Regions from separate parts of the Homo sapiens genome. Here region 1 is linked to region 2. A link means that fine-mapping ties the variant in region 2 to the expression of a gene that starts in the linked region. Tissue or cell type: whole blood. Region 2 holds a variant in brackets; the other region holds the start of a gene. All regions are shown on one strand. Distances are between the middles of the regions.

The links. PIP is the estimated chance that this variant, and not a neighbour inherited with it, causes the effect.
Region 1: it holds the start of LARP1, and the variant in region 2 is fine-mapped to the expression of LARP1 in whole blood (INTERVAL, PIP 0.99).

The regions. Positions count from the first base shown.
Region 1 is chr5:154,751,822-154,757,806 of GRCh38, reverse strand. It overlaps LARP1 (La ribonucleoprotein 1, translational regulator), which reads right to left and starts at 2,430. Exons shown (of 19, transcript NM_033551.3): 1 at 1,614-2,430. The coding sequence starts at 2,049. It overlaps LOC112267936 (a long non-coding RNA gene), which reads left to right and starts at 2,787. Exons shown (of 2, transcript XR_002956231.2): 1 at 2,787-4,028; 2 at 5,230-5,985. RefSeq lists an enhancer at 373-432 and silencers at 1,353-1,462, 1,743-1,822, 1,863-2,272, 2,313-2,652, 2,903-3,052.
Region 2 is chr5:154,709,104-154,715,088 of GRCh38, reverse strand. It overlaps a transcript of LARP1 not described here. Among named protein-coding and RNA genes, the nearest start is that of MIR1303, 26 kb to the right of the region's middle. RefSeq lists an enhancer at 2,155-2,701. The variant T/C (reference allele first, on the strand shown) is at 2,965.

The DNA of each region.
Region 1 (5,985 bases), 43 kb before region 2:
GGGGGGAAGGGGAGCAGGGGGGAAGGAAGAGAACACAGTATGAAGGACTGTTAGTAAACCCCAAATGTCCCCTCCTCCAAATGAAGCAACCTGAAAAGAAATAAAAATTGCAACATGCTGTTTTCAGGACTGGCTATTCTGGCTTCCCTAGGACTAGCAGTGCTTCTACTCCTTTGACGGTGAAGACATTAAGCTCCCCCTTTATTTTTGATGGTTTAAACCAGTTAGCCTCAACCAGCTACGGCAGGTGAGTTTTTTAAAAGCACCAGGGCTACGACCAGAGGCCATCATTCCAACTGCAAGACAATTTTAAAACCGACCCACCACAAACGGACCCAAAACCAAAGAATGGAGACCCGCCCTATACGCCGGCCGAGAGAGGAGAGTGGGCGCGCCCCCCCCACCCAAGCCGACGATCTATTCTCGGCAAAGGCAATGCAAGAGCAGACTCCATATTCTGCACCGCCTCTCCCCCCACGCTGACACGGCTCTGCTGGGATTTCCTGCACCCCTTACCTCCCCCCGGAAAGGGGCACGGTCCAAAAGGACCAAAACGCGGAGGAGGGAGAGGGAGGACTCGCGGAGCGCCGGTCGGCAGTCACATGCCGCTCCCCGCGCGGGGAGGCACCACGTTGTCCCGGCTGCAGAGGAATGCTGGGAAGGGGGGACGCGCACACACCCGCGCCGCGCACACGCACACTCGGGCCGCGCCGCGGGCCCGCACCCTCCTGCCACCCCCAGCGCCGCGGCCCGCACCGAACGCCGAGGCCGAGCGGCCCGCGGGCCGCCGGCGCGGCGCATGGCGCCCAACTGTCACCCGCCCGCCCAGGCCGGCCACTCCCTCCCCCGCCGCCACACGCCCCTCAAGTCGCCGCAGGCCCCTCACCCGCCTCACATTTTCCGCCAACCTCCTAACTGGCTCCCCCAGCACACTCGCCATCGGGCTCCTTCTTAAGGCGGAAGGTGCCCGGGATCGGGGAGGGAAACCACCGAATTCGATGACACGATGGGTTTCTTCTCCCCACAACTGACCCCTCAACCCGTCTCCAAATGGCGATTCTAAAGCCCAATTTCATCTCCCCGAGAACAAAACTTGTTAACTTTTAATCCCCGCATCCGTGCGGCCAGCATGTACTCCGCGCCGGGCACTGGGTTGCCCGTGACATATGCTCATTAAACATTTACAACATGGGGACGCTCGCAACGCTACCAAAACGGGGAGCGCCGGGCGGGGTGGGAAGAGGGGCTTCCAGAGGAAGGTTCAAACCAGAAACCGTCTCTTACACCAGCATGCGGTGGGGATCGTTTCACTGAAACCAGCGCCCACCCTCTGCCGACGAGGTAGGCCCGAACCACACCGTTGCCCACTAACCGCTGCGGCCCAGGCGGTGGCCGTAGCCTCCCGGAGGCCGGGCCCTCGGGCAGGGGCAGGTCCCTGAGTGTACGGTGGGGGGGAGGGCGCGGCGACCAGGATCAACCAGGAGGCAATTTTAAAAAGTCCCGAGTCACCATGACCGGTAGCAGACCCCGGGGCCCTGGAGGTGCTGGGGGAGGGGACTCCCATGTCCCCGGAAGAGGCCCCCGGACCCAGGAGGGCAAGGAGGGAGACCCACCTGGGGGGGACTGTCCGTTCACGGTGGTCAGGACCGGCGGCAATGCGTTCTTAGTCCACGGGTTCACCTTGGGCGGGGGGGCTTCCACGAAGTCCCGGCGCCCCGCGCCCGCGGCTCCGGCAGCTCCTCCGCCAGCGCCTGGCTCGCCGCCGCCCTCCTCCCCGTCGCTGATGGCCGGGCCTTCGGCGCCGGGCAGCTGCAGCGGCCGCGGGCTCTCGCGCTCCTGCTGCCCGGTGCCCTCCTTGTGCGGCTTGGCGCAGGGCGGCCGGGGTCTCCGAGCGCTGCCGTCCGGCTCCCCCCCGCGGACGTCGTTTGGCCCGGGCTCGCCCTTGCCCTCGGGCGCCGGCGGCGGCTTCTTCCTCACCAGCCCCCCGTGCTCTTCGGCCTGCAAGAGCGTGGCGCCCCCAGGCAGCAGCGGCTCCACCTGAGTGGCCATCTGCGCGCCCGCCCCCCCGGAGAAGCCGGGCGCGCCCGAGGCTGCCTCCCCCGCCTCGAACTTGGCTAGCAGAGCGCCCGCGACGCCTTCCTCCGGGGCGCTGGGCCCCAGTCCCTGCAGAGAAGGGTCGGGGTTCACGCGAGGTGCGGCCCCCTCCCAGTTAGATGCAGCCGCCGTAAATCCGAGGCCCACTAGCGGGGCGGGGGGGGAGGAAGGCCCCCCACTCTGCAGTCCAGGCCTCCTAGGCGTGCGTCCCCCCCCGCCCGTTCCTCGCAAGACGCCCCCACCCCGAGCCCGGCAGGCTTCTAGTCCCGTCCCTCCCTCCCCCCCGCCCCCGGGGCGGCCCGGGCTTCCCGGCTCGGGGGCTGCAGCAATATGGACGGACGGGGGAGAGGCGCGGCGAGCCAAGCAGACCACGCGATCCGCGGCAGGCGGCGGGCGGGCGCGCGCCTCACGACGCGGCGGGCGAGGGGAGGGGACGGCGCAGCGGGGGCGCGCCGCTGGCCGGGCCCTGGGCGACGGGCGGGCAGGAGGCGGCGGGACGGCGCGCGCACGGCTACGCGGTCCTGCCCCTCGCCCCGCCCCTCGTCTCCGATTCCTCAGAGCACCTCCCGGGCTGGGGGTAGGGACGCTCAGACCGGACGGGGGCGAGCACGTGCCTGATGCAATTCGGGAGTTGTCGGTGGGGGCGCTGACGGGGATAGGAGAGAAGGCTGGGCGAGGAGGGGAGGTATCTTAAAGGGCCAGCGCGTGAGAGCGGCCTCAGGTGGAGCACATGGGACCCGGCCACGCGGCCTGCCGGGCCTGCTCGTGCTCTTTAGGCTGGGTGTCAGATTCAGGGGAAGGAGCCATTAGTGTCATTCCTGACTTCTAGGAGGCCGAAGGGAGGACCCTCATCCGCCCCGAGGACGCGCCAACGCCGCCCCCTCCCCTGTGCCCGGCGGGCCTGGCCCCTTCGGTCCCCGCCCGGGTGACCTTGGTTGGGTGAGCCGTCCGCACCTCAGTGGGTTGTGCTCCGCGCCTCGCCGCCGCTGGGCCTGGCCTCGACACTACCCGGAGATGGGTTCAACTCCGGGCCTGGAAAGCGAGTCTTTAGCCCTTGCGGGCAGCCGGCGCCTAGGAAGTGGGAACGGAATTACTAAAGCCCTCACCCAGGCCAGGCCCTTCTCCCCGCCGCGAAACCTTGTATTTATGGGCAGGAAATGTCTTTTCTTTCAAGTGGATGTCGTTTTTTTTCTAAAGAATTGCTTTGGGCGGAGTTGAACCGTCCCTGGATTGGGACTTCTGAGATCTGAGATTTTATCCTGGCCCTGCCCCCTTACCATCTCTGCAGCAGTGACTTCCAGCTTCGTGGGCCTCAGTTTCTCTATTGTAAAATGAAGGAGCAGTGTATGACAGCAGTTTCAAACTTCAGTGTACATTCGATTCAATACTTACTGACCTCGTACTGTGGGGGCCTTGCAGGGTTCTAGGAAACGGGTTTGGTATAAACTAGGCTAACAAAGTCCCTATCCTCATGGAATTTATTCTAAGGTGGGGAAAGAGACAATAAACAAGTAATAAATTATTGTCTAGTATCTATGAAGACAATAGTTAAACTGTGGTAATCAGTTAGACTAGATGGGCTACTTTTGTTTGGGTGATAAGGGAAGACTTCTTTGAACGCAGATGCCAAAGTATTAGGAATCAGGCTCGGTCTGGGACTGGACCCAGAAATCTGCGTGTCTAGCAAGATCCCTTTGGTGCTTATGACTTCACTTGGAGAAGTCCTGGCTTCTGACTGGCTGTGATCCCACGTGCTCACATAACATAACAGCCTGGAATGTTGGCCATCTCCAAAACAAGAATTAGAGCACACGACCTGCTGGATCTAGGAGAAGACTGAATGAAAAGCCTCTTGGAACTGCCCCAGCCAGCAAAGCTGAGCTGTAGGATTGTTGTAACCAGTATGGGGGAGAAGTACTGGTAGGGATAGCCAGGTAATGCCATGTCTACTTCCAACTCTTGGGTTATTCAGCCTCCAAGCCTTGGCCAGCTAGCCGCACTTCCCTGGACCCCTCTCCTGGTGGAAAAATGGGGGTAAATAATGCCTGACTTGCTTCCACCCTCTGAGCTCATGTGAAGGTCAAGTGAGACAATGTTAGTCAAGGTGCTGTGTAAATTTTATAGACAAGCCAGTACGTCAAAAGAGCTACCAAGGAAGGTAATGTTACTCAATGAATTAAACCAGGAATCTACTAAGTTCATTACATGTACTCTTAATCAGAAGGTAAATTATTGCACATTGCCACTGAAATGCACTATTTATTTATTTGAAGAGATGAGGTCTGTCACCCAGGCTGGAGTGCAGTCATTGTGATCATGGCTCACTGCAGCTTCAAACTCCTGGGCTCAAGCCATCCTCCTACCTCAGCCTTCGAAGTAGCTAGGACCACTGGCACGTGCCACCATGCACAGCTTTATTTTTACAAATTTATTGATAAGTAATCCCTGAAGAGATTATTCACTCTAGACCCTCTCTAAACTTTGTTAATAGGGGACATAATTATTATTGTTAGTTGTTCTTTTTGTAATTGGAGGTAGAGAAGTACCCTCCCCTGACCCCTGAGAACTCGTGAGGGTACGAGGGCACTGTGTGGACAAGAAACTCGTTCATGCTACTCAGCAGTCAGAAACAGGGTTGAACAAGCATGGCCAGGCCCTGCTGTGTAGAGGGTGGAGGGGTACTGAGATCTGCCTACCCTGGGCCTGCTCTGCCCCAGAGAGAGACAAACTAGGGCCAGAGAAAGTAAGAGACCTGTGTGAAACAACATCTTTTTTTTTTTGACTCTTACTCTGTCGCCCAGGCTGGAGTGCAGTGGTGGGATCTCAGCTCACTGCAACCTCCGCCTCCCGGGTTCAAGCAATTCTTCTGCCTCAGCCTCCTGAGTAGCTGGAATTACAGGCGCCCGCCACCATGCCCAGCTAATTTTTGTATTTTTAGTAGTGATGGGGTTTCACCATAATGGCCAGGCTAGTCTCAAACTCCTGACCTCAGGTGATCTGCCCACCTCAGCTTCCCAAAGTGCTGGGATTACAAGTGTTAGCCACCATGCCCGGCCGAGACAACATCTTAGGCTTAGAAGCTGTTAGAACTGGAAAAAGGAATCATAATGATTACTCATTCTCCTTGTTTTGCAGATGAAGAAACCAAAGTTCAGAAAAGTGAAGTCCAAGGCCGGGCACAGTGGCTCAAACCTGTAATCCCGGCACTTTGGGAGGCTGAGGCAGGCAGATCACCTGAGGTCATGAGTTCAAGACCAGCCTGGCCAACATGGCGAAACACTGTCTGTACTAAAAATACAAAAATTAGCTGGGCATGGTGGCGCACACCTGTAATCCAAGCTACTCAGGAGGCTGAGGCATGAAAATTGCTTGAACCCAGGTGGCGGAGGTTGCAGTAAGCCGAGATCACCCCACTGCACTCCATCCTAGGTGACAGAGCAAAACTCCATCTCAAAAAAAGAAAAGAAAAGAAAAAGGAAGAAAAAGAAAAGTAAAGTTCCTTATCCAAAGTCACACAGCAGAGCCAGACAGAGCTAGGTCTCATACCTGAATCTCTTTATCCTAAATCCAGTAGTTTTTTCTACATTAAAATAATGAAACTGGGGCTGGGCATAGTGACTCACACCTGTAATCCTAACACTTTGAAAGGCCAAAGCAGGAGGATCACTTGAACCTAGGAGTTAGAGATCAGCCTGGACAACACAGTGAGACCCTGTCTCTATTTTTTTTAAGTTTTAATAAAAAAATGATGGAATTGGGATTTGAATTCAGGTTTTTTTGATTCCTAACCAACTATGGTATTTTATATGCATATATTTCTAAATACAGTCATCCTCCCTTATCCCAGTGCATGCCTGAAACCCCAAATAGTACCAAACTCTATATATACTA
Region 2 (5,985 bases):
CCTGCCTCAGCCTCCTGAGTAGCTGGGATTACAGGTGCCCACCACTCCGCCCAGCTAATTTTTTTGTATTTTTAGTAGAGACGGAGTTTCACCATGTTGGCCAAGCTGGTCTCAAACTCCTGACCTCATGATTTGCCTGCCTCAGCCTCCCAAAGTGCTAGGATTATAGGCGTGAGCCACCGCACCCGGCTTCATTTTTAATTTCATTAGCTCCTGTGCACATGCACACATGCGTATACGCACACAACGCTCACACACATTGTTACTCAAATACCTGCCTGAGTTCCCTATTCCTAGAAACTGTTTTGGCTTTCACTTTCACTCCACTCCTTCTACCATAGGCTCTACCCCGAGAGAGGGTGCTGCCACAACCCTTGAAACCAACATTCTCTGAGATTTATTTACTCAGCAGGGAGCTGCAGGAAAGGAGAGAACAGGGTGGCTGAAGCTCAAGTGACTGCACAGAAGGGGCTTTGAAAAGAAAAGTGACTTACACCCAGGGTCATCAGTAGGTCTTACAGTATATATTTGAGCCCAAGATCCTCTACTCCAACATGCCTGTTCTAACCATTGTATTATCCTGCTGCTTCCAATGGGGCCACATTCCAGGACTGGGTTCCCATCCCACGAGTCGTTAGAAAATACCATGACTCAGTGAGCTATTTCCCCTTTCTTTTTGTTTATATGATTGTACATTTCAAAAAGTCCCAGTAAATGGTATTTTTTTAAAGTAAAAGGATTTAAACAAGCAGCCACGATTCCATCATAATCAGTAATTCTTTTATCACATTAATTATTATCACACAGTGATTGGAGAAAATAATTACTACAGAGGCCGCATTTTACAAAACATTCATTACCTTACCTCATCAATCCCAAAATGTATTTTTAAATCTGAATTTATCTTAAAATCTGTGGAATCTAAGCTTCCATGGAACAGACTTTGTTTGGTCATAAGAACAATCCTGGTAGGCAAGCATTGCCCAGATTACAATCCCCATTTTGCAGCTGGGAAAACTGAGTTCAAAGAGGTAAACAATTTGCCTGAGGTCACAGAGCTAGTCAGTGCAGAACCAGAACTGCAGGCCTAGCTCCTGATTTTCAGCACAAGCGGTATCTACCATATATTCCTGGCCTCCAGGCCCTGTGTTCATACCTACCTGTTCCCATCACTCTCCTGGCCACACCCTAACAGAGGGCTGAGGGAGACCTCAGCTCCCCCAACCAGGCTTCCCTAGCCTCAGCCAGCTAGAGGTGGGGTAAACTCACTGTGGGGACTCCTGGGAGCAGTCTCTCCACATAGGAAATTTTTAAGTCCAAAGCTTTCACTTTCAAGAATGAACCCTGTGTGTGAGGCAGCACTGCAGAGACCAAAGCTCAGCTTGGGCGTGAAGGCAGGATTTTGCTGGTGTCCTTATAAACCCCATGCAAACTAGATCTAGGAGTTCCCCACCTGGGGACCCCATTCCCTGGAAATTACTCACAAATGCTCTATTTCTCATATTTCAAAAGGTCAAATGAAAATCAAATATCGACTCTAGATAAGATCTCACAGACAGAATAAAATACTACACTGCTTTTGGCTAAACCTGCATCAATTTAGTGGTTTGTGTCTGCTAACCAAAAAACACTGATTGGCTATTACAGGGCCACAATTCACATAGAAGAGGAAAACCAATTAACAAATTATTATGTAACAGGTGCAGCTGACAGACTTAAATCTTTCAGAACAAGGGGTGTGACAAGGGAAAACAATAGAAGAGGAAAGCTGAGAGTGGAATTTGAGCTCCTCATTTTCCCAGATGGGGAATGTGAGGTTCAGAGAGCTGGAGTGACTCGCTCAGGGTCACACAGCAGGGCTGGAACCAGCACCCAAGGTTTCTGCCCCTAGGGAGAAGGATCTTCCTACCACACCCTGCTGTCCTGAGGTTCAAGAAACGCAGAGTGCTAGGACTCACCAGGGTTGCTGAAGGGGGCCAGGACAGGGAATGGCAATGGCTTCTCCCTGTCACCTGTGGGCTCCTTCCTCGGGGCAGCTGCCAAGGCCACGCTGTTTTTCCTCCCTGGGAGTCTGCCAGGGCAGCTAGGTATGGGAGCCTCTTGGAAATCCAGCTCTGGGTGAGGGAAAGGAGGCCTCTTTGACAAAAGCACCCTCCAAAGCATGGAGTGACCAGGGCCTGGGGTCACTATGTGGCCCTGGAGGGTTTAGGTACATCCAGATCGCACAGCTGCCTCCTGGCTCTGGCCCGGGAGCTCTCCAGGTTGCCAGGCTAGTTTTCCTTCCAGACGCTGGGTGCCTTTAAGAGAGCGACGGCAGCTCATTGGCCGAGCAAGGCTACCCCACCTCTTTACCTTAGCGGGGAGCACAGCTAGGCTAGAGGCAGAGAGACTCAGGTGAGTAAACAAATGGTGGCAACCCGCTGAGTCTCCCCTCCTCCACAGCCCTGGTCCTGGGCTTCCTTCCTCACCTCCACTCTCCACCCTGGAAAACAAGCTGGGGCTAAAGGAAGAGCAAAACACTCTGCAAAGTGCTTAGTGCGGTTCAGACTACATGATCTCACAGTGACCCTGGGGCAGAGTTATTAGTACATCTTCTCTTTTCAGTGGAACAACTGAGTCCTTGGAGGGGTGAAGTGGCTTGTCCAGTTCACACAGCCCTTGCAAGGAAGGTCGACAGAGAGGGATGGTGTGAGGATCCAAACCCGAGTCTCCTGCTTTTGACTTCCCATACGGTTCTGTTGGACCACACCACTTTCCTGTTTGCAAAGCCTTTGGCAAGTCACTCACTGCCTCAGTTTCCACATCTGTAGCATGGTATAGTCATGCTAGTGATCCTCTACTCACTATAATGAGTATATAATCTTGGGTTTAAAGCTGAAAGAGACTTTGGAGATTATATAGCTCATCCAGTCATTTATCAGGCATTCATTATTCAAAAGGCATTATTATTCAGCAGCTATTATG[T/C]GTCAGGCTCTGTTTTAGTTCCTAGGGACATATCAATGAACAAGAAAGTCAAGAACCTTACTTTTATTGAGTTTACATTCTGGAGAGAGGGGATCTAGATATAAACAAGCCAATTAGATAAGTAATAGTTCCACAAAAATGAAATAGGTTGATATGATAAAGTAATGGAGGATGGATATTTTCAATGATGTGGTCAGGAGGCCCTCCCTAGGGAGGTGATATTAAAGCTGAGACATGAATGATGACAAGGAACGAGACATTGGAAGAGCTGGAGCAAGAGTGTTCAATGCACAGAGAACCAACCCCAAGTATAAGGTCCCCGAAGCAGGTACGTTTGGAGAACAGAAAGAAAGCTGCTGTCACTACAATATAGTCCAATCCCTGTACCCCCTCTTAATAGATAAGGAATTTTATCTATTCCTTATTTATTCCTGGAAGGTAATTCAAGAATTCAGAAAGATGATTCAACTTGCCCAAGATTCCCTCTTGTAAATTCCTCCTTCCTTTCTTTATCCTCATGTAGAAGACAAGGAAACTGAAGCTTTGGGGTGACCAGCATACTTGGGTTACCAACCCAACAATCATTCTGGTAGCCTACACTGCTATAATCTCATGCTTCTTCCACTCTGTAGACATATGTAAACTCCCAGACAGCAGGAACTATGATTTTAAGAGTGTACCACACTACCGGGTGCGGTGGCTCACGCCTGTAATCCCAACACTTTGGGAGGCTGAGGTGGGCGGATCACGAGGTCAGGAGTTCAAGAACAGCCTGACCAACATAGTGAAACCCCGTCTCTACTAAAAATACAAAAATAAGCCAGGTGTGGTGGCGCATGCCTGTAATCCCAGCTACTCAGGAGGCTGAGGCAGGAGAATCGCTTGAACCCGGGAGCTGGAGGTTGCAGTGAGCCAAGATCACACCACTGCACTCCAACCCAGGCGACAGAGTGAGACTCCATCTTAAAAAAAAAAAAAAAAAAGTACCACACTGAAGAACAAAATCCTGACACTGACGGAATATGTAGTAGTCTTCAAAATTCCAGCAGTAATGCAAACGGCCACACTGTCACATGGGGTCAGCACAGACCCTTCCTGTGGGGTTCCTTTCCACTTTCATTTTCAGAATTTTTTACTCTGATTTTTAAAAAGGGCTGCCTGTTTTCAGTCTCACATTGTTAGTAGTAGCTTTGGTATTATTCTGAGACTGTTGGATATACAGTATGTAATAAAGCAAGTGAGTTTGTTGGTATTGCTGAGAACCAGGACTTTTGGTGTGGGAGAAAAATACAAGTGAAAGACGAAAGGGGTTAAGTAAAAAATGCATAATCCTGTGTTTGTATTAGAGGTTTCAGTATGATTTTTTTTTTTTTTTTTTTTTTGAGATGGAGTCTCACTCTGTCGCCCAGGCTGGAGTGCTGTGCCGCGATCTTGGCTCACTGCAACTTCCACCTCCTGAGTTCAAGCGATTCTCCTGCCTCAGCCTCCTGAGTAGCTGGGATTATAGGTGCACGCCACCATGCCCGGCTAATTTTTTGAATTTTTAGTAGAGACAGGGTTTCACCATGTCGGTCAGGCTGGTCTCGAACTCCTGACCTCATGATCTGCCCACATTGGCCTCCCAAAGTGCTGGGATTACAGGTGTGAGCCACCGTGTCTGGCCTAAATTTTTTTTTTAACAGATAGGGTCTCACTATATTGACCAAGCTGGTTTTCAACTCCTGGGCTTAATCAATCCTCCCACCTCGGCCTTCCAAAGTACTGGGATTACAGGCATAAGCCACTGTGCCTGGCCTCTCAGTATGAATTTTTTATTTAGCCGATCTGAAAACAAATAAACTAAGTGAATTCCCTAGCTCTGTTTACTGTTTTCAGGTCTAGAAACAATGACCAATCCTTTAGTGCAGAGGTCCCCAACTCGCAGGCCATGGACTGGTACCAGTCTGTGGCCTGTTAGAAACTGGGCCCCACAGCAGGAGGTGAGCGGCGGGCAGCCACCAAAGCCTTGTCTGTATTTACAGCGGCTCCCCATCACTTGCATTACCCCCTGAGCTCCACCTCCTGTCAGATCAACGGCAGCATTAGATTCTCATAGAAGCCTGAACCCTATTGTGAACTGCATATGGCAGGGATCTAGGTTGTGCACTCCTTATGAGAACCTAATGCCTGATGATCTGGGGTAGAATTGAGGTGACGATGCTAGCACTGGGGAGCGGCTGCAAATACAGATTAACATTAGCAGAGAGGTTTGATTGCACAGAGACCATAATAAATCAGTTGCTTGCAGACTCATATCAAAACCCTATCAGTGAGTAGCAAGTGACAATTAAGCTGCATCTGGTGGCAGGCTTTAGGTCAGCATCTGACACTTATTTTAGTCCATACGTGGCCCGCTCATTATTTTATTTACTGCTTCCATCTGCGCCTCTTTCCCACACTGCACACTCGCCTTGGTCACAGTTTTGGTGAGCCCACAAGCTAACTCTAGCCAAAATGAGTAAAAAAAAAAAAAAAAAAAAAAAAAAATCTCACTGGAGAGCTTCTTTGAAAAGCCGGAAAGAACCAATGATGACAGAGCAGAAGACTCAGACTGCCACAAAAAGAAAGCTGCACTTAAAAGAAAATACCAAGAGTCCTACTTAAATTATGGGTTCATTGCAACACGTGATTCACATTCTCCAAGCCTGCTTTGTATAATATGTGGCGACTGGCTATCCAATGAAGCCATGAAACCTTCAAAACTGCTTCACCACATGGAGGCCAAGCACCCTGCATCAAAAGACAAGCTTTTGGAGTTTTCAAAAGAAAAGAATGTGAACATGAAGAGCAGAAGCAATTATTGAAGGCCACCACTTCATCAAATGTGTCTGCACTGAGAGCATCATTCTTAGTGGCTAACTGCATTGCTAAAGCTAAGAAGCCTTTACTATTGGTGAAGAGTTGATTCTGCCTGCTGCTAAGGACATTTGTCATGAACTTTTGGGAGAGGCTGCAGTTCAAAAGGTGACACGTGTTCCTCTT